Regions from separate parts of the Homo sapiens genome. Here all the other regions are linked to region 3. The links come from fine-mapping of genetic effects on gene expression. A gene starts in region 3. Each other region holds a variant in brackets. All regions are shown on one strand. Distances are from middle to middle.

Evidence for each region. PIP is the estimated chance that this variant, and not a neighbour inherited with it, causes the effect.
Region 1: its variant is the best candidate, but not a certain one, in a credible set for the expression of SPP1 in testis (GTEx, PIP 0.51).
Region 2: its variant is the best candidate, but not a certain one, in a credible set for the expression of SPP1 in whole blood (INTERVAL, PIP 0.76).

What each region holds. Positions count from the first base shown.
Region 1 is chr4:87,921,284-87,929,467 of GRCh38, forward strand. No RefSeq gene overlaps it. Among named protein-coding and RNA genes, the nearest start is that of SPP1, 50 kb to the right of the region's middle. RefSeq lists enhancers at 424-951, 952-1,478. The variant C/T (reference allele first, on the strand shown) is at 4,361.
Region 2 is chr4:87,884,138-87,892,321 of GRCh38, forward strand. It overlaps the pseudogene HSP90AB3P. Among named protein-coding and RNA genes, the nearest start is that of MEPE, 55 kb to the left of the region's middle. RefSeq lists an enhancer at 7,893-8,184. The variant T/C (reference allele first, on the strand shown) is at 5,117.
Region 3 is chr4:87,970,983-87,979,165 of GRCh38, forward strand. It overlaps SPP1 (secreted phosphoprotein 1), which reads left to right and starts at 4,732. Exons shown (of 7, transcript NM_001040058.2): 1 at 4,732-4,818; 2 at 5,900-5,967; 3 at 6,077-6,115. The coding sequence starts at 5,914. It overlaps LOC124900730 (a long non-coding RNA gene), which reads right to left and starts at 2,787. Exons shown (of 2, transcript XR_007058172.1): 1 at 2,657-2,787. RefSeq lists promoters at 2,486-4,728, 3,728-4,815, 4,605-4,818, cis regulatory regions at 3,738-3,747, 3,963-3,971, 4,038-4,046, 4,484-4,499, 4,674-4,683 and 1 more and enhancers at 3,990-4,010, 4,373-4,872, 4,635-4,705.

The sequences.
Region 1 (8,184 bases), 50 kb before region 3:
CACCTTGGGCACATGTTCTCAGGACCTCTTGAGACTGTGCCTCGGGCCTTGGTTATTCATATTTGGCTTAGAATAAATCCTTTCAAATATTTTACAAAGTTTGACTCTTTTTCATCCACAATGTTAACCTTATTGCAGTAAAACAAAGAAATATTCCCGCTACACAAGAGAAAGACTATGAAAACCTTCACAGTAATTCAGGTCAGGTTTTGCTATCAAATGAATTTTTAAAAATGTTTGTTTTCATGCTTTCATAATTTCAGAATTGTAGATAAGGGATTTTGGACCTGAATTGCCTACTCTCTGTCACTTGAAACCTTACTCAATTTCTAAGTTTGCCCAACCTTTCTTCCCTGAGCTTTTCCTCCTTCTCTCCTTTCTTCTATGACTAGTTGTTCCATTTCCTGTCTCCTTATCTTCTTTCCTTCCCAAGACTTTTAGAAGAACAGTTAATTTTTCGTTGATGCCCTTACCAATCTGCACAAGCAAATTTAAGTAGAAACATCTGTACATCCCTTATGTCAGGCCTCTGAGCCCAAGCCAAGCCATCGCGTCCCCTGTGACTTGCACGTATACACGCCCAGATGGCCTGAAGTAACTAAAGAATCACAAAAGAAGTGAATATGCCCTGCCCCACCTTAACTGATGACATTCCACCACAAAAGAAGTGTAAATGGCCGGTCCTTGCCTTAAGTGATGACATTACCTTGTGAAAGTCCTTTTCCTGGCTCATCCTGGCTCAAAAAGCACTCCCACTGAGCACCTTGCGACCCCCACTCCTACCCGCCAGAGAACAACCCCCTTTGACTGTAATTTTCCTTTACCTACCCAAATCCTATAAAACGGCCCCACCCCTATCTCCCTTCACTGACTCTCTTTTCGGACTCAGCCCACCTGCACCCAGGTGATTAAAAGCTTTATTGCTCACACAAAGCCTGTTTGGTGGTCTCTTCACACAGACGCGCATGAAATTTGGTGCCGTGACTTGGATCGGGGGACCTCCCTTGGGAGCTCAATCCCCTGTCCTCCTGTTCTTTGCTCGGTGAGAAAGATCCACCTACGACCTCAGGTCCTCAGACTGACCAGCCCAAGGAACATCTCACCAATTTTAAATCAGGTAAGCAGCCTCTTCTTACTCTCTTCTCCAACCTCTCTCACTGTCCCTCAACCACTTTCTCCTTTCCACTCTTCACTCTCCCTTCTCTTAATTTCAATTCCTTTCATTTTCTGGGAGAGACAAAGGAGACATGTTTTATCCGTGGACCGAAAACTCCGGCGCCGGTCACGGACTGGGAAGGCAGCCTTCCCTTGGTGTTTAATCAATGCAGGGACGCCTCTCTGATTATTCACCCACATTTCAAAGGTGTCAGACCACGCAGGGACGCCTGCCTTGGTCCTTCACCCTTAGCGGCAAGTCCCACTTTTCTGGGAAAGGGGCAAGTACCCCAACCCCTTCTCTCCTTGTCTCTACCCCTTCTCTGCTTTTCTGGGGGAGGGGCAAGTACCCCTCAACCCCTTCTCCTTCACCCTTAGCAGCAAGTCCCGCTTTTCTGGCGGAGGGGCAAGTACCACAACCTCATATCTCTGCGCCCCAATCCCTTATTTCCGTGCCCCAACCTCTTATATCTCTGCACCTCAACCCCTTATTTCTGTGCCCCAACCCCTTATTTCCATGCCTCGACCCCTTATTTCTGCGCCCCATCCCTTATTTCCATGCCCTGACCTCTTATCTCTGTGCCCCAACCCCTTTTCCCACTTTTCTGGAAAGTAAGAACCCCCAAACCCCTTCCCTCTGTTTCTCTACTCTCTCTTTTCTCTAGGCTTGCTTCCTTCACTATAGGCAAGCTTCCACCCTCCATTCCTCCTTCTACTCCCTTGGCCTGTGTTCTCAAAAACTTAAAACCTCTTCAACTCATACCTGACCTAAAACCTAAATGCCTTATTTTCTTCTGCAATGCCGCTTGACCCCAATACAAACTCAACAGTAGTTCCAAATAGCCAGAAAATGGCACTTTGAATTTTTCCATCCTGCAAGATCTAAATAATTCTTGTCGTAAAATAGGCAAATGGTCTGAGGTGCCTGACGTCCAGGCATTCTTTTACACATCAGCCCCTTCCTAGTCTCTGTGCCCAGTGCAACTCGTCCCAAATCTTCCTTCTTTCCCTCCCGCCTGTCCCCTCAGTATCAACCCGAAGCGTCGCTGAGTCTTTCTAATCTTCCTTTTCTACAGACCCATCTGACCTCTCCCTTCCTCCCCAGGCTGCTCCTCACCAGGCCGAGCTAGATCCCAATTCTTCCTCAGGCTCTGCTCCTCCACCCTATAATCCTTTTATCGCCTCCCCTCCTCACACCTGGTCTGGCTTACAGTTTCGTTCCGTGACTAGCCCTCCCCCTCCTGCCCAGCAATTTACTCTTAAAAAGGTGGCTGGAGCTAAAGGCATAGTCAAGGTTAATGCTCCTTTTTCTTCATCCCAAATCAGAAGCGTTTAGGCTCTTTTTCATCAAATATAAAAATCCAGCCCAGTTCATGACTTGTTTGGCAGCAACCCTGAGACGCTTTACAGCCCTAGACCCTAAAAGGTCAAAAGGCCGTCTTATTCTCAAAATACATTTTATTACCCAATCTGCTCCCAACATTAAATAAAACTCCAAAAATTAAATTCCGGCCCTCAAACCCCACAACAGGATTTAATTAACCTCGCCTTCAAGGTGTACAATAATAGAAAAAAGTTGCAATTCCTTGCCTCCACTGTGAGACAAACCCCAGCCACATCTCCAGCACACAAGAACTTCCAAACGCCTGAACCGCAGCGGCCAGGCGTTCCTCCAGAACCTCCTCCCACAGGAGCTTGCTACATGTGCCGGAAATCTGGCCACTGGGCCAAGGAATGCCCGAAGCCCGGGATTCCTCCTAAGCTGCGTCCCATCTGTGTGGGACCCCACTGAAAATCGGACTGTTCAACTCACCTGGCAGCCACTCCCAGAGCCCCTGGAACTCTGGCCCAAGGCTCTCTGACTCCTTCCCAGATCCTCTCGGCTTAGCGGCTGAAGACTGACACCGCCCGATCGCCTCGAAAGCCCCCTAGACCATCACGGACGCCGAGCTTCAGGTAACTCTCACGGTGGAAAGTAAGCCCATCCCCTTCTTAATCAATACGGAGGCTACCCACTCCACATTACCTTCTTTTCAAGGGCCTGTTTCCCTCGCCTCCATAACTGTTGTGGGTATTGACGGCCAGGCTTCTAAACCTCTTAAAACTCCCCAACTCTGGTGCCAACTTAGACAATACTCTTTTAAGCACTCCTTTTAGTTATCCCCACCTGCCCAGTTCCCTTATTAGGCTGAGACACTTTAACTAAATTATCTGCTTCCCTGACTATTCCTGGACTACAGCTGTATCTCATTGCCTCCCTTCTTCCCAATCCAAAGCCTCCTTTGCATCCTCCTCTTGTATCCCCCCACCTTAACCCACAAGTATAAGATACCTCTATTCCCTCCTTGGCGACCAATCATGCACCCCTTACCATCTCATTAAAACCAAATCACCTTTACCCCACTCAACGCCAATATCCCATCCCGCAGCAAGCTTTAAAAAGATTAAAGCCTGTTATCACTCGCCTGCTACAGCATGGCCTTTCAAAGCCTATAAACTCTCCTTACAATTCCCCCATTTTATCTGTCCTAAAACCAGACAAGCCTTACAAGTTAGTTTAGGATCTATGCCTTATCAACCAAATTGTTTTGCCTATCCACCCCATGGTGCCAAACCCATATACTCTCCTATCCTCAATACCTGCCTCTACAACCCATTATCCTGTTCTATATCTCAAACATGCTTTCTTTACTATTCCTTTGCACCCTTAATCCCAGCCTCTCTTCGCTTTCACTTGGACTGACCCTGACACCCATCAAGCTCAGCAAATTACCTAGGCTGTACTGCCACAAAGCTTCACAGACAGCCCCCATTACTTCAATCAAGCCCAAATTTCTTCCTCATCTGTTACCTATCTCGGCATAATTATCATAAAAACACATGTGCTCTCCCTGCCAATCGTGTCCAACTGATCTCTCAAACCCAAGCACCTTCTACAAAACAACAACTCCTTTGCTTCCTAGGCATGGTTAGCGCGGTCAGAATTCTTACACAAGAGCCAGGACCGCACCCTGTAGCCTTTCTGTCCAGACAACTTGACCTTACTGTTTTAGCCTAGCCCTCATGTATGCATGCAGCGGCTGCCGCTGCTTTAATACTTTTAGAGGCCCTCAAAATCACAAACTACGCTCAACTCACTCTCTACAGTTCTCATAACTTCCAAAATCTATTTTCTGCCTCATACCTGATGCATATACTTTCTGCT[C/T]CCCGGCTTCTTCAGCTGTACTCACTCTTTGTTGAGTCTCCCACAATTACCGTTGTTCCTGGCCCAGACTTCAATCCGGCCTCCCACATTATTCCTGATACCACACCTGACCCCCATGACTGTATCTCTCTGATCCACCTGACATTCACCCCATTTCCCCAAATTTCCTTCTTTCCTGTTCCTCACCCTGATCACGCTTGATTTATTGATGGTGGTTCCACCAGGCCTAATCACCACACACCAGCAAAGGCAGGTTATACTATAGTACAAGCCACTAGCCCGCCTCTTAGAACCTCTCATTTCCTTTCCATCGTGGAAATCTATCCTCAAGGAAATCACTTCTCAGTGTTCCTCAAGGAAATAACTTCTTATATGATGCAGCATATTCATTAAACAAGTGGTTTCCCATGCTTGGGAAACCATATGTCCAAGATTCAAGGGCTGGAGGTGAGAATGGACTTTATTATACCAAATATTTGTTTTGGGGAATGTTTTCTTCCCATCCATGCAATCTTGGATTCTGTGGGTTTATAGTAACAGAAGGAGAAACGAATCCCTAAGGGAATACAATAATAGTTCCATTGAATTAGAAACTGAGATTGCCCACTGGCCATTTCAGGCTGATGAAGCAAAGACAGAGAAGAGCTTATTGCATGTACTGGCTGGGTGATTGATCCTGATTACCAAGGAGAAACAAATGTGCAGTGGGGGTGAGGAGGATTATTTATGGAACCCCAGTGGGGTTTGTGGCTACTTAGGACTTTATTACCCCACGGCCCTTGGCAATAGAAAATTGTGGCAGTGTAGTAAAGATAGGACCACCAAATGGCTCAGCTCCTGTAGGACTAAAGTTTGACTCAGGCAATCAGGTTAAAAATCCATTCAACCAAGATACTTTCATAGAATAAGGAAACATGAAATGGGCATTGGAAGAAAGATGCTGTGGTTAACAACTTAGACATACTAACCAGTTACAGAAGCAGAGATTTTAACAGCTATGGCCTCTGATCATTGTTTCTTATCCCCATGTTTCCTCCCACTCCTTTTATGAAGAGCACTGCTGATGGCTAACATTTTTAGGTTGCAAGTGTTCTGGCCTTGAAGATATGGTAACTGGTTGGGAACACAAAGTTGTCACCTAGGCAAAGGATGAGAGTGGATGTCAAGAAGCAAGGCTATGCTGGATCCTTTCTGCTGTTCTACCAGATCCATCCTCCACCGTCATCTATCATTGTCTGTGTGGATCTTGATCAACGGACTTTGCCTCTGGCTCCTGATTGGGTTTGCCCAATGGGAAGCAGAAGAGAGTGAAGTTGTGGCTCCTTCTTTTCACAGAGCTGCAGGTTGGCCATGCCCATTTCCTCCAGTCTACAGCCCTTTTCCGCTGGAATTCACCACCTAACAACTTCCTCGGGTTTAGATAGCCACTGAACTATCTTACCCCTTCAGGGTTAAGGGGTAATGGGTTCCCCTCTATTAGTAGCCAGTGGGTAATTAACTATCTCTGGTTTGTTCCTTAAAACCTGCCCATAATAGTCTCTTTAAATAATTCTCCTCAAATTACCTGGCCTGAGTATGTCCCACTGGAATTTTGATTAATGCACATTCTTAGTTTGTTCTTTACAACCACTCAATGGCATAGATGGGTATGTGATGTCACTTTCCTCATGCTTAAAATGTTTTAGTGCCTTGTAATTGTAATTGAAATAAAATCCAAAGAGTATGGTTTGCAAGGCCATAGTTGACCTGGTGTCTGCCTCCCTCTCCAAGCCAATCTCTCCCCTCTCTCCTTCAATCCTGTTTCACAAAGTCGTGTTAAGATCCCCGGTAGCTCTTTCTCTTGAGGTGCTCATCCCCGAGATCTTCCTGCCTGTACTTCAAATTTCAATTGAAATATCACCTCCTTAGAGTCTTTCCCTAGTTATTCAGTCAAAAGCAGTCATCTAAACACCGTCACATTATCTTATGTTAACTCTTCTCACAGGACTTAATAACAAGCAATTAACACTTGCTGATATTTTCTTGTCTATTTTTATACCTTTAATCATCTATCAATCATGTCTTTCTTCCTTCCTTCCTTCCTCCCTTCCTCCATTCCTCCCTCCCTCCCTCTGTCTCTTTTTTCTTTCTCTTTCTTTCTCTTTCTTTCTTTCTTTCTTTTCTTTCTTTCTTTCTTTCTTTCTTTCTTTCTTTCTTTCTTTCTCTCTTTTTCTTTCTTTCTTTCTTTCTTTCTTTCTTTCTTTCTCTCTTTCTTTTCCTTCTCTCTCTCTCTCTCCCTTTCTCTTGCTTTCTTGCATTCTTTCTGGCTTTCTTGTTTTCTTTCTTGCTTTCTTGCTTTTTTTTCACGGGGTCTCATTCTGTTGCCCAGGCTGGAGTCTGAAGTGCAGTGGTGTGATCATGGCTCACTGCAGCCTTGACCTCCCTGGGGTCAGGTGATGCTTCTGCCTCAGCCTCCCAAGTAGCTGGGACTACAGGTGTGTACCACCATGCCCAGCTAATTTGTGTGTGTGTGTGTGTGTGTGTGTGTGTGTGTTTGTAGAGGCAGGGTTTCACTGTGTTGTCCAGGCTGGCCTTAAACTCCTGGGCTCAAGTGATTCTCCCACCTCGGCTTCCCAAAATGCTGAGATCACTGGCATGAGCCACTGCACCTGGCCCCACTATTTCTTTAGATGAAAAATTTCCTGAGGACTAGCTTTTAATATTTGTTGATATTAAATTAAAAAGCAGGGATTAGCTCCATCCTATAGAGAAGGTAACAGGAGTTCAGAGGTTACAGTTATTAGTGTCAGAATCAGCACCTCTGACTTCTGATATCCATATACCAGAGTCTATTCCTCATCTGATTTCCCAAGCCTAAAAATGTTGTGGGAAAGGCATGTAATCAATCTAAGTGTCTATCAATGAATGAATGGATAAAGAAAATGTGGTATATATACACAATGAAATAATCAGCCGTAAAAACGTAAAATGCCATTTGCAACCATCATGGGTCAACCGAAAGGATATTATGTTAAATGAAATCAGCCAGACACAGAAAAACATATGTCTCATGATCTCACTGATATGTGGAATCTAGAGAAGCTGATCTCGTAGAAGTAGAGAGCAGTGGTAACAGTGGTTACTGGTGGGATGGTTGGCGGGGAGGAGAGATGGGAAGAAGTTGGTCAAAGGATACATAATTATACTTGGATAGGAAGAATAAATTTTAAGAGAACTATTTTATGACAAGGTGACTGTAGTTAATGATGATATAATGTATTCTTGAAAAAAATGTAAAGACAGTGGACGTTATGTGCTCTTAACACAAAAATTATAATGATGTTATGTAATGCGTCTTGTTAATTAGCTAGATTTAGCCATTCCACAATGCATATGTACTTCAAACCATCATGTTGTATCTGATAAAAACATGCAATGTACTCTGTCAATTTTAAAAAGTAAATTTTAAAGGTGTAGGAGAAAAATAAAATTAAAATGCTATGGGAGATGAAATACTAGGAGGTAGTGAGCACACCTTAACTTATGTGAGACGAAACTCCTGGAAAAATAATGGGGAGCCTTCTATCTTCTTAGCCCATTGCTAGATTTAGAAATGAATTGTTCTCTGATACTAAATTACCACTCCCAAAAAGGAACACAAAGCTGTTGAGCAATTCAGTAAGATATTAAGAAGATGTTCCATGATTTAGCAGCCAAAATAACTTTGTTAAATATTTGGTTAATGTCTCTTTACTGTTCTAGGAATTCCTAGAGCCTTTAATATGTTTCTTGTGAAGCAGGCAGATGTACTATGCAAAGCTACTCCAACTGATTAGAATAGAAAA
Region 2 (8,184 bases), 87 kb before region 3:
AAATCAACATAATATTTGAGTGGGGACACAGATCCAAATTCTATCAAGGATTTTAACAGTAGAAATGAAAAGCAAATCTAAACAAATAACAAAAAATAAATATTCCTTACAATCATTTATTCAATTTTATGACAAGTCCATTAACATGATTGTACACAGTACATCATCAGAGGCAATAATGGGAAATATGTGCAGGCCCACATCTTTCCAAAATGCATATTCTGTATTATCTGAATATTTCCTAGCAGACGCTAGAAAAAATAAATGCTCCTCCCCAAAGCAAAGAGTGGTCAAGTGTCCATTTCTTCTTGGTTCTACTATTGCAAGAGGAAGAATTGTTTTCTTTTAGGAAAAAAAAAATTAGCTTCCTTCAAAGGCATTAAAGAAAAAGGGAAAATAAGGTGGCCACAAATCTTATTCTGGTAAAGTGCACCTGCTTAGGTATCTTATGTAAGTCTTATTTTTTACACTCTTTCTTTACCTGAACTCCCCAATACCTACACACACACAAAAAGAACATGTCTCTCTTCCATTGACACACACAAAAAAACTTTACTCACAAAAGAAGCAGAATTGTATCTTTTTTTTTTTTAAGTAAATTGATCTCTGCAAGCCATCACTTCATTGTGCCAGGAACTGGGTTTTAAACCCTATCTTCTCATCTAGGAATTGATTTGTGTTTAAAGGAAAAATAAAGCAGGAACAGGGACATTTCCTTTTTCACGCTCATTTGAAAAAAACAAAAACAAAAAACTAATGGTGAGGTTCTGCCTGGCCTAAATGCTTTCCAAAGGAGACAGTAAGCTCCCACACAAAAAAACTAATAACTTAAAATTTCCCCCTCTCTTGTCCTCATTTGGGCTTAAAATATTACCAAGTATTAATTTTAGTGTTCTGCCTGGCTATTAAATCACAAACCACACTGGCTGGTGAGAAACGAAGAAAGAAAAGAACCATTATTCACAGGCAAACCAGACAGTCCCACAAATAGCTCTATAAAAGTAAACTAAGTTATAATTTCTCTCTCCCTCATGAGTCAGAAGAGAAGGGTTCTAACTATCCAACTATGCAAGTTTGGGGTGGGAATTTTTAATTGGACAAGCAAACAATTTACTTAGAGATAAGAGATTAGCAGAGAAAGTATGATCGGGTTGGTAAAGATTTGCCTACATTTTCTCTTCTGATAAGACGGCGATACAGAGGCCAGAGAGCCTGAGACCCGATCAGACTTCCAGATGTGTTTCCTGCCACACGTGACTGCACAGCACAGACGGTTACACTGTCATTCTACCATGTCACCGTGCCTTTCTTTCTGCCTTGTCCAACCCGTTTCTCTCCACCTGCTGTCTATGACTTCTCCTTTCTTCCCTCAAAAATTCTCCACTCTCACCCTCCATTAGGCATCTCCCTCTCCAAATCTCTCAAAATATTGCCCATTTCTATTGTATGGTCTACCCTCATTTGTCTTTCTTAGTGTTCGCTGGGCACATCTTCCAACTAGACTTTCGTAAGGTCTGTGAGAATGATGAACTTGTCCTTTCTTATCTTTCAGTTCTCTCATGTGCTTTGAACATGAAATAAGTACACTACGTTTGCTAAATGTTTTCTAATTGATGTTCTTTTGTTAGTACATCCTTTTATTTCCACCCGTCTCCTCATACACCATGGAATAAAGCCAAGAATAAAGCTGGAGTGAGGGAGATGAAATGTGAAGTTGCGTGTAGCAGGTGGAGGAAGGAGGGAAGGAGGAAAGCTCGGGGGAGAGGAACAAGGATACATGAAGACAGAAATGTACAGTCAGACTTCCCTGAACTTGAGCCCAAGAGGCAAAGAGATAGAAAACCCAGATAAATTTCATGACAGGGTTGGGCATTTCCTAGAGCAGAAGGAATAATTGCCTGGCTTTCCGGGGAACAGTCAAGAAGAGATCAAGCTTCACAAGGAAACATAACATCCGAAAAGATGCTCCCCAGGATATAACAGAGACACAGTAGTGTGCTGTGATTAGGCAGACAGACAGTCAGATTAGCACTTGTTCTCCTCTCTAAGCTCTGAAGTGCGAGAGAGAAATCCGGAAACTCCAATGTGCCCCAGAGTAGGCACAGAAGAGAGCTGACCAGAGGGGTGGAAATCTTGCTGAGGGACAGCCATGGTGAATGACGTCATAAAGCAGGCAGGCTGGATTAAGGCTGCATGGATGACATGGCAGAGATGTGAGGGGCCTACAATGCCAGCAACCCCAGGTAGGGTTAAGGCAGCAGAGGAGAACCACTGGGCCCGACCCAACCGGGAGAATAGGTAACAAATTCACCAGCTGCAGATTTTGTCAGAGGTCAACAGGGCATTCAGCATCCACCAGAGGCCCCAGCAGAGAGTACAAGAGCAAAGGAATTTTCTTCTTGCTTTAACTAAGCAAGTTAGTGCTATAGTCAAGTTTAATTGATGTCTGCAGGAGGAATCACCAAAAAGGAGTAAAACTTGTTTCCAGTTACCAGTACAGAGATTCCCAATTAAAAAAGATATGGGCAGTACAAGGGCCCCACAAACTTTCAGTCCATGTACCAAATGAAGACAGAATTCACTCCAAGAGGCCACATACACCAGATCCAATCAGGGTCAATTTAAGTTCATCATAATGCCACGTTTTGTTGTCACTTGTTTTCTGACCCAACACTTTGCCTAACTTGTACTAACCTGCTCAGGGAAATTGTATCATATTCTCAGAGGTGGAAAGGTCTTGTATAAACAGAAATAAGTATTTACGGAAAAGAGTTATAAACTGAGAGTACAACAGGTTCAAGGCTATGGCTTTTGCAGGCTGGAAAAAGTAGTCATACGTAGGTGAGTGTGTTCTCCCCCACCTTAAAGTAGGGCCCTCTTTATCCTTCCACCAAACCAAACAAAAACACACAGACAACAATTACTCTTTCAAGCATTAGCTCCCAAAAGGCAAATTTGGATGACAATTTCATGGGTGACAGAAACACATATGCCACACAGAAAATAAAACAATAATAATAAAACACACTAAACATTTCTATTTTCTTTCAAATTCCCTGTCAGATGCCAAGTTCATATTTCTTCTCCTGGCTCAATCCTTCTCCAAGATAGTCTTCAAAATCTCGTCTAGCAAAGTTCACATCTGTCCCTAAATTTGCAAACCACATTAGGAAAATAAAATCCTAAATTCTAAAATGAACCCAGTGGTAATTGAGCAAACATCTCTTCCTCTTTCTCTTCCTCATGCCTCCACCCTAAGCAGAAGTCTCCATCCAAAAATAGTGGATTTATTCACAGGGGTACCTAATAAAAGTACATTAGATGCTGCCTATATATTTATAATTGTGTCACATGCATGTAGTTGCAGAAATCTGGTTTATAACTTAGGTGTGGAATTTAAAACTAGTAAAGCGATTGTATGTTCTCATGTGCCTCACTTTGTCTCCTGTCTAATGAGACATGAGACATAATGTTGCATAGATTCTCAATGCTCAGGCATATGCACTCATGTTAATATGCACTTTATTTTAATGCCATACTGAAAGACTAGGCACAATCATAGATGCTCAAGTATCACTGATATTGTAGGCCCTCTTCCAGCTACAACCTTGATTGTTTTCATACACACATTCTTTCCATCCACATCACATTTTCATTTTTCTCCATTTTTTAAATACGTCACGATTTTTAAAATGTGATCCTGTACCTAGCAGTGGCTTATTCTCTTATAGGTCTCCAAATCAGAGACAGGGAGATGAAATAGCTTAGGTAATTTATGAGTATTCCCATCATTTTCTAATGTGAGATATTCTTAAAAGTGTCTGGCTTTTGCCCTCAAATAAAGCTAAATTGGAATATCAGTTCTGCCACTTGTTAGTTTATTGATCTTGGATGAGTAAGAATCTCTCTGAGCCACAGTAAAATAATTAATAAAGCTTGTTATTACTTGTAAGAACAACATAACAATTGAGTGCCTACCATAACATTTGTGTGAAGATTTAATGAGATGATAAATTTAAGTTTCTCAGCCAGTACCTGGCACATAGCAAGCCAGTATGTATAAACTGTCATAAGGCAGGTGCTGGGCTAAAACTTTAATGTCTGTTATTGAATTTAATCCAGACAATACCCCTAGGACCTGCATACTTTACTGTCTCCATTTTAGCCAATGAGGAAACTGAGGGCTAAAAAGGTTAAATCACTTGCCTAGGATCACACAGTTGAAAATAATGAAGGGCCAAGTCTGTGTAACTCCTTATCTGTGAGATGGGCATAATAATTCTTTCCCTACAGTACTGTTCTCAGGATTAAATGAGCTAATACTGTAACATGTAACATGTAACAGTCACTCAGTACGTTTTCATTTCCTTCCTGTTCTGCCCATGTGTAACTCCTGACTTACAATTTATCCCATCAAATTAAAAATTATTAATAACTAAGATCAGAGCAGAATTGAAGGAGATAGAGATATAAAAACCCTCCAAAAAAGCAATGAATCCAGGAGCTGATTTTTTTGAAAAAATTAACAAAATAGATAGACCGCTAGCCAGGCTAATAAAGAAGAAAAGAGAGAAGAATCAAATAGACACAATAAAAAATGATAAATTGAATATCACCACTGATCCCACAGAAATACAAGCTACCATCAGAGAATACTATAAACACCTCTATGCAAATGAACTAGAAAATCTAGAATAAATGGATAAATTCCTGGACACATACAACCTCCCAAAACTAAACTGTCGGGGGAACCCACCCCCGATAATTCAACGTTATTTCACGTAGGTTCTTTTCTATTTCCCTAAGTGTCTGCTGGTCTGAGAAATAAAGGCAAAGAGCACAAAAGAGAGAAATTGTAAAGCTGGGTGTCCAGGGGAGACATTATGTGTCGGCAGGTTCCGTGATGCCCCCCAAGCCACAAAACCAGCAAGTTTTTAATAGTGATTTTCAAAGGGGAGGGAGTGTACAAATAGGGTGTTGGGTCACAGAGATCACATGCTTCAGAAGGTAATAAAATATTACAAGGCAAATGGAGGCAGGGTGAGGTCACAGGACCCGGGTGAAATTAAAATGACTAATGAAGTTTCGGGCACGCATTGTCATTGATAACATCTTA[T/C]CAGGAGACAGGGTTTGAGAGCGGACAACCGGTCTCACCAAAGTTTATTAGGCAGGAATTTCCTCGTCCTAATAAGCCTGGGAGCGCTATGGGAGACCAGGGCTTATTTCTTCCCTTACCTACAACCGTAAAAGACAGACATTCCCAGAGCAGCCATTTCAGAGACCTTCCCCTAGGAAGGCATTCTCTTTGCTGAAAAAAAGAATTCAGCGATATTTCTCCTATTTGCTTTTGAAAGAAGAGAAATATGGTTCTGTTCTGCCCAGCTCTCAGGCAGCCAGACCTAATGGTTATCGCCCTTGTTCCCTGAACATCGCTGTTATCCTGTTCTTTTTTCAAGGTGCCCAGATTTCATATTGTTTAAACAATTTGTGCAGTTAACGCAATCATCACAGGGTCCTGAAGTGACATACATCCTCAGCTTACAAAGATGACGGGATTAAGAGATTAAAGACAGGCATAGGAAATCACAAGAGTATTGACTGGGGAAGTGATAAATGTCCATAAACTCTTCACAATTTATGTTCGGGAGATTGCAGTAAAGACAGGCATAAGAAATTATAAAAGTATTAATTTGGGGGAACTAATAAATGTCCATGAAATCTTCACAATTTATGTTCTTCTGCCATGGCTTCAGCCAGTCCCTCCATTCGGGGTCACTGACTTCCCGCAACACTAAACCAGGAAGAAGTCAATAACAAGAATTATTATTTTACACCCAGCTTTACAATTTCTCTCTTTTGTGCTCTTTGCCTTTATTTCTCAGACTGGCAGACACTTAGGGAAATAGAAAAGAACCTACGTGAAATAATGTTGAATTATCGGGGGTGGGTTCCCCCGATAGTTTAGTTTTGGGAGGTTGTATGTGTCCAGGAATTTATCCATTTCTTCTAGATTTTCTAGTTCATTTGCATAGAGGTGTTTATAGTATAGAATAAATCTTGTTATTGAATAGATCAATAACAAGTTCTGAAATTGAGGCAGTAATTAATAGCCTACCAACCATAAAAAGCACAGGACCAGATGGATTCACAGCTGAATTCTACCAGTGGTATAAAGAGCTGGTACCATTCCTCCTGAAATGATTCCAAACAATTGAAAAGGAAGGACTCCTCCCTAACTCATTTTATGAAGCCAGCATCATCCTGATACCAAAACCTACCAGAGACACAATAAAAAAAAGAAAACTTAAGGCCAATATCCCTGATGAATATTGATGTGAAAATCCTCAATACAATACTGGCAAACCAAATCCAGCAGCACATTAAAAAACTTATCCACCACAATCAAGTCAGCTGCATCCCTAGGATACAAAGCTGGTTCAATATATGCAAATCAATAAATGTAATCCATCACATAAACAGAAGCAAAGACAAAAACCACATGATTTTCTCAATAGATGCAGAAAAGGCCTTTGATAAAATTCAACATCTCTTCAGGTTAAAAACTTTCAATAAACTAGGTATTGATGGAACATATCTCAAAATAATAAGAACTATCTATGACAAACCCACAGCCAATATCATATTTAATTGGCAAAAGCTGGAAGCATTCCCTTTGAAAACTGGTACAAGACACAGATGCCCTCTCTCACCACTCCTATTCAACATAGTATTGGAAGTTCTGGCCAGGGCAATCAGGCAAGATAAATAAAGAGTATTCAAATAGGAAGAGAGGAAGTGAAACTGTCTCTGTTTGCAGATGACATGATCCTATATTTAGAAAACCCCACCATCTGAGCCCAAAAACTCCTTAAGCTGATAAGCAACTTCAGCAAAGTCTCAGGATACAAAATCAATGTGCAAAAATCAAAAGCATTCCTCACACCAACAATAAACAAGCAGAGAGCCAAATCATGAACAAACTCCTATTCACAATCACTACCAAGAAAATAAAATACCTAAGAATACAGCTAAGATGGGATGTGAAGGACCTCTTCAAGGAGAAACATGAACCACTGCTCAATAAAATAAGAGTGAACACAAACAAATGGAAAAACATTCCATCCTCATGGATAGGAAGAATGAATATTGTGAAAATGACCATGCTGCCCAAAGTAATTTATAGATTTGATGCTATTCCCATCAAACTACCACTGACATTCTTCACAGAATTAGAAAAGAATTACTTTAAATTTCATTTGGAATCAAAGAAGGTCATGTATAGCCAAGACAATCCTAACCAAAAAGAACAAAGCTGGAGACATCATGCTACCTGACTTCAAACTATACTACAATAATGCAGTAACCAAAACAGTGTGGTACTGGCACCAAAACAGACAAAGACCAATAGAATGGAGCAGAGACATCAGAAATAATGCCACACATCTACAACCATCTGATCTTCAACAAACCTGACAAAAACAAGCAACAGGGAAAAGATCTCCTATTCAATAAATGATGCTGGGAAAACTGGCTAGGCATATGCAGAAAACTGAAACTGGACCCCTTCCTTACACCTTATACAAAAATTAACTCAAGATGGATTAAAGATGCTCTCAAGTCACTCCAGCACAGCGTTGGTGCTGCCTGGGTATCAGAAAGCAAGCTCACATTGCTCTCCAGTACGTGTAAGCCTTTTCTTTTCAAGATGCCTGAGGAAGTGCACCATGGAGAGGAGGAGGTGGAGACTTTTGCCTTTCAGGCAGAAATTGCCCAACTCATATCCCTCATCATCAATACCTTCTATTCCAACGAGGAGATTTTCCTTCAGGAGTTGATCTCTAATGCTTCTGATGCCTTGGACAAGATTCGCTATGAGAGCCTGACAGACCCTTCAAAGTTGGACAGTGGTAAAGAGCTGAAAATTGACATCATCCCCAACCCTCAGGAACGTACCCTGGCTTTGGTAGACACAGGCATTGGCATGACCAAAGCTGATCTCATAAATAATTTGAGAACCATTGCCAAGTCTGGTACTAAAGCATGCATGGAGGCTCTTCAGGCTGGTGCAGACATCTCCATGATTGGGCAGTTTGGTGTTGGCTTTTTTCTGCCTACCTGGTGGCAGAGAAACTGGTTGTGATCACAAAGCACAACGATGATGAACAGTATGCTTGGGAGTCTTCT
Region 3 (8,183 bases):
CCACCCTGGCCAACATGATAAAATTTCATCTCTACTAAAAAAAAAAAAAAAAAAAAATTAGCTGGGCATGGTGGTGCATGCCTGTAATCCCAGCTACTTGGAAGGCTGAGGCACAAGAATCGCTTGAACCCAGGAGGCAGAGGTTGCAGTGAGCCGAGATCGTGCCACTGCACTTCAGCCTGGGTGACAGAGTGAGACACTGTCTCAAAAATAAATAAATATGTTTAATCTGGGGCTTTATGAAGGCAACAGAAAATAATCAGCAAGAATAACTCAATTTATGTAAGAACTATATACATGTCATAATTGAGCTAAATTTCTTCACTGAATAAATATTTTTGGCACATAATCTGCAGAGGGATTAGCATATCATGGAACTTACACTCTATGAGGAATTCAAACATTAAAGAAGAAATCAAATTTTAATATAGAATATTTTAAATTACAGGTTTAAGAAACATAAATGTTATGCTATGGGATAGGGGCATTAATGTAAACTATGCCTTGACAAGAATTGTCGAAACAAAAAACCTTAGCCAAGTGTAACCAGAAAAATATCTGACTGAGCTGCTTTTGTTGTCTAGTTTTACTCCCCTTTCTTTTGATTTTGTTTTCTCTTTTGCACTGAAATTGTCACCTTTTCATATCAACCTTATGATAGATTCTCTACCAAAAATTACTCAAACATCAGATTTTAAGCAAGAATTCTCATAAACCAATTTCGGAGAATGATTTTCTCCCCTCAAATATATCTGCAAAATGACTGTCACTGACCGCTTATTGCCACAAAATGTCTTTTTCTGAACAAACAAGGTCCTCCTGCAGCTGCTAGACTTTCTATTTGTGCTTTTCCACCTTGTTCTATCTCCCTCTTTGGATCCTCTCTGATTACAGCCTCCTCTATTGTTCCCCAGGTTGTTATAGGTCTCGAGTTTATGCTGCTGTGGTTGATGTTGAGTGGGAAGGGGGACTTTCTGTTTGGATCCAATCCCAGAATACCCATCCCTTCAACTCCAATGTGGACACAGGGTCTCTACCATATACCTTCTCTACCCAGGGTGCTGCCAAGTTTACTGTTTAGCCACACCCCCTTAATCTCATTGGTTACTCAAGTTTCAAATTTCCTAGTTGATTTTCATGAACAAATGGGCTCCATGAGGGTAAGAATGGTGTCATTTAAGAAAAAAAAGTTAGTAATTTAAGTCTACCTTAAAAAAGTCTATCATTTAAAGAGCATTAGAATGTCCTCAGAGTTACTAATACTACTTTAATGAAGAAATAAATGCTAGATTCTTGAGTACAGGCAGATATTAGATATCAATATATGAGATATACTCTGAATTCAAGCATAGTGCCTATGCATTGTATTCATAAGCAAAAACTATAAGGTCAGAATTCGTGTCATAGATGCAGGGCTGAGTGGGCAATCACCAACAATTTATTGAGCACTTACTCCATAACAGTTCTATGTGTCTAAAGGAAAACTTTTTTTTATTTGTTTTAAATTGAAACTAATGTTTACCAATGGTACGACCACTTTGTCAGGAGCTGACTTTTGTTGTCTAAGCTATTGAGCAATGGAATAAAAGAGTTTATGGTGTTTTTGTTTTTTTTTTTTTGTATTTCTGAAATGCTCTAATTTCATGTCTGAACTTGAAAATAGCACCCTCTTATCATCCACCTTTGCTTGCTACCCTGTGATAAATAATGCCCCTTTTCCCAGTCTATATATGATGAATGGTGCTAGGCTTCCGATTAGCTTTAATTCCAAACTTCTTTATGACAGATTAGTGGTGTTACCAAAATATCAGAGTCATGTCTGAACCTTGACTCAAGGGAAAAAAATAATTACCTGTGGAGCTGAAAACACTGAAATAGTTGGTTACACTTTACTAAGTAAAATATAATTAGAAATGTTCAAATAAACTGGAAGTGAGTTTAATAAAGTTGTCCACCAAAGTAGTGACATTGAACACTTACTTTTTATTATATGGGAATTTTCATGTAATTCAGGAAAAAGACCTTAAGGCTCTTTATTTGTTTCCATGTGTCCTCTTAGTGTGTATAATTTAAGATCACAAATTACTCTTTGCATTCTAGTTTGACAACTAAACTTTTTTTACTTTCCACTCACAAGATTTATAGGGAATTTGTGCATTTTGACCTTTTGATTCTAACAACCAATCATTAGCCAATCAAGAATGGAAACTTTGGAAATATTACAGATAGAGCCACTGTGATTTAAATCATTTAACATGTTAATTCTGACAGAAAATCCTACTCAGAAAAAACAACCAGCAGCAGCATGTTTGAGTGCAAACAGCAAGAAACATCCCAAAACATGACCTCCCCGATAGTCAGAATGACGCAGCATCCATTTCCTACTTTACAGAATTGCCTCCCATTATAAATCACTTTATCTTCTCAACTCCAAAGCATCCCAGACACATTCTTTACCCGTGAATTCACAAGCCTTTTCTCTGAGAGAGGCCTTGGGACTAGGAACTTTTTGAATGAGTGTAGAAGTCGGGAAGGAGACAATAGTGTCAACTTGGGATTGCCTAAGGCAACAACAGAGCAAAACAAGAACGCTTTGGTTCTCTGGGTCTCTGTCCCTGATTGCATAGCGGGTCATTGTTGGGAAATATTTCCTCACCTGGCATTCCAAGAAATGGAGAGCTCCACAGCTGTATATAGTCCTGTCATTAAATACAGGAGTGTTCTATCCCGCTGGAATTAAGAAAATTGGTAGAACCAGATTGTGGTCTGAAATCTTTTTTCAGAAATGCTGCCATCGTGTGGCACTGCGGAGCTATGACCAGAAGAGTCCTGTAAAGGGTCGTATGGTTCATCTCAAGATGGCTGGGCTCCAGCATAATCTATTCCTATAATTAATTCTAGCTTCATATTGAATCATTCCCGTGGGCACAGAGTAAACTACAGTAAATCCTGTGGAAATTTTGTTGTTTTTAGAATTTTCAGACTTCCCTCCACTAAATTGACAACATGACACGCTTATGCGGGTATGTTTAAAGGAAAAAAATAGTTTTTAGAAGCAGAAAAAAGAAGTCTATTTTGCAACTTTATAATCTGTGTGCTTTCTATTTTATAGAGATAGTCGTCATCTTACTTATTAAAATGGGTGCTTATTACCTACAAACCAATCATATCAATTCATCTGGAATACATCCAATTTAAGGGAGACATATTTCCCCCTACCAAATGTTCATGAAACCTATGAATTAGCTATACACTATCACTGCAAGACATTATTTAATCTATATTTATATTAAAAGTAATATTTGGCAAAAGGAAGCTGACACTTTAGGACTAATAAAAACCACAATTACTTTTGCAGCAACCTAATAATAAATAGGACCATTTATTTTTCATCTCAATTACACACAAGTCTTAACAATAAAGGTGTAAGGTAAATAAATAGTGCAATCTGCATTTCACAACTGAGAAAGCAAATGAAGATAAGTAATCTCAAGGCAATATTAAATATTTTAAAAGGACCCAGAGCTCTGCTATCCCTGAATTCTGCTCTAATATTCGGACTTTCCCTGTAATTTTCTTTCATTCAGACACCTTTTAAATACCTAGTAAAGTGTTTTTTAATACAGAAATTTTTAAAAATGTTTTTCTTTTTAAGTGGCCTACTTTACATACCTTGGGAGAAAAACTAGAAAAAAAGATGATTCCAAAATCGAATCTGTTCCTTTAGAAATGTGCAAAATTTCCTTATTGATGCATACAATTTAAAGATCTTACGTCTACTCTCATTTTAATAACCTGTTCTTTTAAAGGACATTACAATTCGTGACTGCCTGCCCCTCTTAAAAATTTCATAATAGTTAACACACATATAGTCCTTAAGATACGCAGAGCATTTGCATCTAATATGTGCTAAGCATTGCTAGTTTAACATACTAATTCATTTAAACCCCTCAAAAACCCCATGACCTAGGTAATAGTATTGCATTTCATGGATGAGGGAACAAGGATAGGTAGGCTGGGCGATTTGCCCAAGGTTGCACAGGTCAGCAGTGACACAGCGGAATTCAGAACCACGGTCTGGCTCCTGAAGCAGCCCTCTCAAGCAGTCATCCTGCTCTCAGTCAGAAACTGCTTTACTTCTGCAACATCTAGAATAAATTACCATTCTTCTATTTCATATAGAATTTTATATTTTAATGTCACTAGTGCCATTTGTCTAAGTAACAAGCTACTGCATACTCGAAATCACAAAGCTAAGCTTGAGTAGTAAAGGACAGAGGCAAGTTTTCTGAACTCCTTGCAGGCTTGAACAATAGCCTTCTGGCTCTTCAATAAGTACAATCATACAGGCAAGAGTGGTTGCAGATATTACCTTTATGTTACTTAAACCGAAAGAAACAAAAATCCATTCTATTTAATTTTACATTAATGTTTTTCCCTACTTTCTCCCTTTTTCATGGGATCCCTAAGTGCTCTTCCTGGATGCTGAATGCCCATCCCGTAAATGAAAAAGCTAGTTAATGATATTGTACATAAGTAATGTTTTAACTGTAGATTGTGTGTGTGCGTTTTTGTTTTTTTTTGTTTTAACCACAAAACCAGAGGGGGAAGTGTGGGAGCAGGTGGGCTGGGCAGTGGCAGAAAACCTCATGACACAATCTCTCCGCCTCCCTGTGTTGGTGGAGGATGTCTGCAGCAGCATTTAAATTCTGGGAGGGCTTGGTTGTCAGCAGCAGCAGGAGGAGGCAGAGCACAGCATCGTCGGGACCAGACTCGTCTCAGGCCAGTTGCAGCCTTCTCAGCCAAACGCCGACCAAGGTACAGCTTCAGTTTGCTACTGGGTTGTGCATTCAGCTGAATTTCATGGGGAAGTCCAAATTCTAAGGAAAAATATTTTTAATTGTAATGCTGTTAAACAGACTTAAATTTTCTAGCCTTTTTAATAAGCAGATTAGATACATTGCAGGTCTCCTGGAACAAAGGTGTCTAGATATTTTGAATGCCAATCAAATTTAAAACTTAAAAATACTTCCACTGGGTCCTCAAAAGAACGGAAACCACCGATGCTAATCAGAAAATAGTAAAATTAAATTCCCCTTTGGAATAATTATACCTATATAATTTTCAGTGGGTGACTGTGCAGGAATTTAAAAGAAAAGGGATCTTTTATGCTAATTAAACCAATTACAATGCTATTTTTTAAATGATGTATCTCACTTTTAAGGGGAAGAAAACCCTTTCTGAATATGCCACTGCTAAATTTAGCTGTTAAAATATTCACCAAGATACCTGTATGACACTGTGTAGGCTTATTATTACAAATAGAAAAGCTGTTGGCTATTTTCAATGTTTTCCTTTGAATTTCAAATTTTTAGAACATCTTACTTAAATAACAAATTTCAGAGATAGTTTGATTTCACCTAAGTAGCACCTACTTGATAATTAAGCTAAAAGTCACATTTAAAGTACATGTTGGAAAAATGGATAAAGCAAATTTTTTTCATTTTTTTCTGTGAGTTTTTTCTTCTCTAAAAAATATTCCCATACTAGCTTATTAATATAATTAAGTTACTGTTGATCTGTTTGTAGGTTTAGAGAGCTAGATATATAAGGTAGTAATGGTATAATTTCTGGAACTCTAAATTTTAAAGTTGAATAAATACAGACTTGCAAAATTTCCCTTTCCCTTGCCTAATAGTGAAAGATGGATAATAGGTGGCAATATAAATATTAACTTGAAAGACTATAATACTAAAAAGAAAAGGCATCTCTAAGAAGTAGAAAAGATTCTATAGAAAATATATTTTATTTGTGATCATTTTGTAATGTGGTAGTATAAAAAGGTATCACTGTTGTAACCTATGAAGATGTCAGCTATTCCTTATGAAATATTTTGCAGGAAAACTCACTACCATGAGAATTGCAGTGATTTGCTTTTGCCTCCTAGGCATCACCTGTGCCATACCAGTGAGTACAGTTGCATCTTAAAGAAAATTCCTGAAAATAACTGAATTGTGTGCTTCCATGTGCTAGGAGGACATTCTTGTAATCTTTCTTCATCTTTTCTGTTTCTAAGGTTAAACAGGCTGATTCTGGAAGTTCTGAGGAAAAGCAGGTAAGCATCTTTTATGTTTTTATATAGTTAAATCATTTACTCAATTATGGCGAGAGGTGCAAGAAACGTATTTGCTGCGATATTACTTATCTTCTCAGTCAAATCCATTGGTTTACAAGTATTGATTGACTGCCTGCTATGAATCTAGGCCAGTACCAAGCACAGTATAGTTTTTAATAAATATAAGTTTATAAAACCAACCCAGATATTTTAAATATAATAATATCTAGGCATGTATGATGAGTTATCGCATGTAAGATAAGTTATATGAAGTTGTGTGACTTTTTTTCCATTAGTCCACATACTGATCTAAAAGCAGAAAATTCCAGCTTTTGCTTTGTTTAGTGGATTGCTAAGTTTAAAATTCACATTGGATATTAGTCAGAACTGTTTGTATGACCATAATATTCACAATATTGTCTGAGATATTAGCTGAGAAGCCCATTGTGAAAAGAAAGTCTATGTGTGCTGTTTGTATCTATTGTGATTGTCAGCTGATGTTAGATCACATTTTCTAACCAAACATAAGACCAACCAAACTCTTTATTATAATTATTTGACCAGCACTAAAGATGTACCTACCCCTCCACAACAGATGAAACTGTGCCAGCCAAACAACAAATGGGCATTGTCCCCAGAAGCTTGGACAAAAAGGCACACAGAGTTCAATTCCAGTTGAACAGAATAAAGGCCAAAATAGAGCTGCCTTGGGGGTCACTGCAATTAGACTGCTTAATGAAGACATTAAAAGAAGTATTCTGTGTTCGTTTGTGTGTGGAGGGGTGTGTGTGTCTGTTTTTCAACTGATTTGAAAATACAGGTGTTGAATCCTAATAATAAACCAGAAAAATTAACATCTCCAGAGAAGATAGAGGTCATACTATTTGAGGCAAGAATTAGCGTCTTTTTAATAAACGAAAATATGGCAAAGATGCATTTTAGAAGGCACGTGGAGCTATAACAATTTAAGAAATACGTGAAGAGCTCAAGGCTCAGCCTTCTAGAATCCCAGAAACTTAAAGCTAGTAAAAAATTGGGGAAGTCTCTAAGGATATATGCCTGAAAATACACACTGGTTATCTGTGAGTGTTAGGATTACTGGGTGGTTTTTAGTCTATTCATTTTGCTTACCTTTATTTTCTTCATATTAGTTTTTAAAAATTATAAATGTAACTTATACATCCATTCTCTCTGAGCCTGTATTACATGTGTCATGAGAATAGATAGATAGATATGAAAAAGTGAAGAGAAAAACTCTGAACTCATCTGGTCTCACTGTTTTTCCGCCTTCTTTTTTTTTTTTTTTTTTTTTTTTTGAGACGGAGTCTCGCTCCGTCGCCCAGGCTGGAGTGCAGTGGTGTGATCTCGGCTCACTGCAAGCTCCGCCTCCCAGGTTCACCCCATTCTCCTGAGTAGCTGGGACTACAGGCGCCCGCCACCACGCCCGGATAATTTTTTGTATTTTTAGTAGAGACGGGGTTTCACCGTGTTAGCCAGGATGGTCTCCATCTCCTGACCTCGTGATCCACCCTCCTTGGCCTCCCAAAGTGCTGGGATTACAGGCGTGAGCCACTGCGCCCGGCTGTTTTTTCATCTTCTTAAAGCAAGGAACCCCTTCTTTCAGCAAAACCTTTCGGAGAAGCCCAATACTAAGCTCCTCTGGTTAGAGCCAGCCATGAGAGAAACTCCAAGTACTTCTGACTGGTTCTCTCTCTACTCATCCACCCCTTAGGTGGCTGCAGAAGGAACTCTGTGCAACCCCCAGAGTTCTCATTCTCAGTGACAGGGAAATGTAATGATTGGCCCTGGATGATTCAGCAGATCAGATGATACTTACTCAGAGCAATTTCCACTCCTTTGCAGTAGCATATTATCAGTATTTTCCAGATAAATAACTTGGCTAAAGAAAAATCCATTTCATTTACATCTTTGGCACCTTACAGCAATAGAACTTTTGTGCAATGATTTTAATATTATATTTCTACATTGGCTGATAAGATACATATGGCTATTGAGCACTCAAAATGTGGGCTAGTGCAACTGAGGAACTGAATTTTTATCTTCTTTT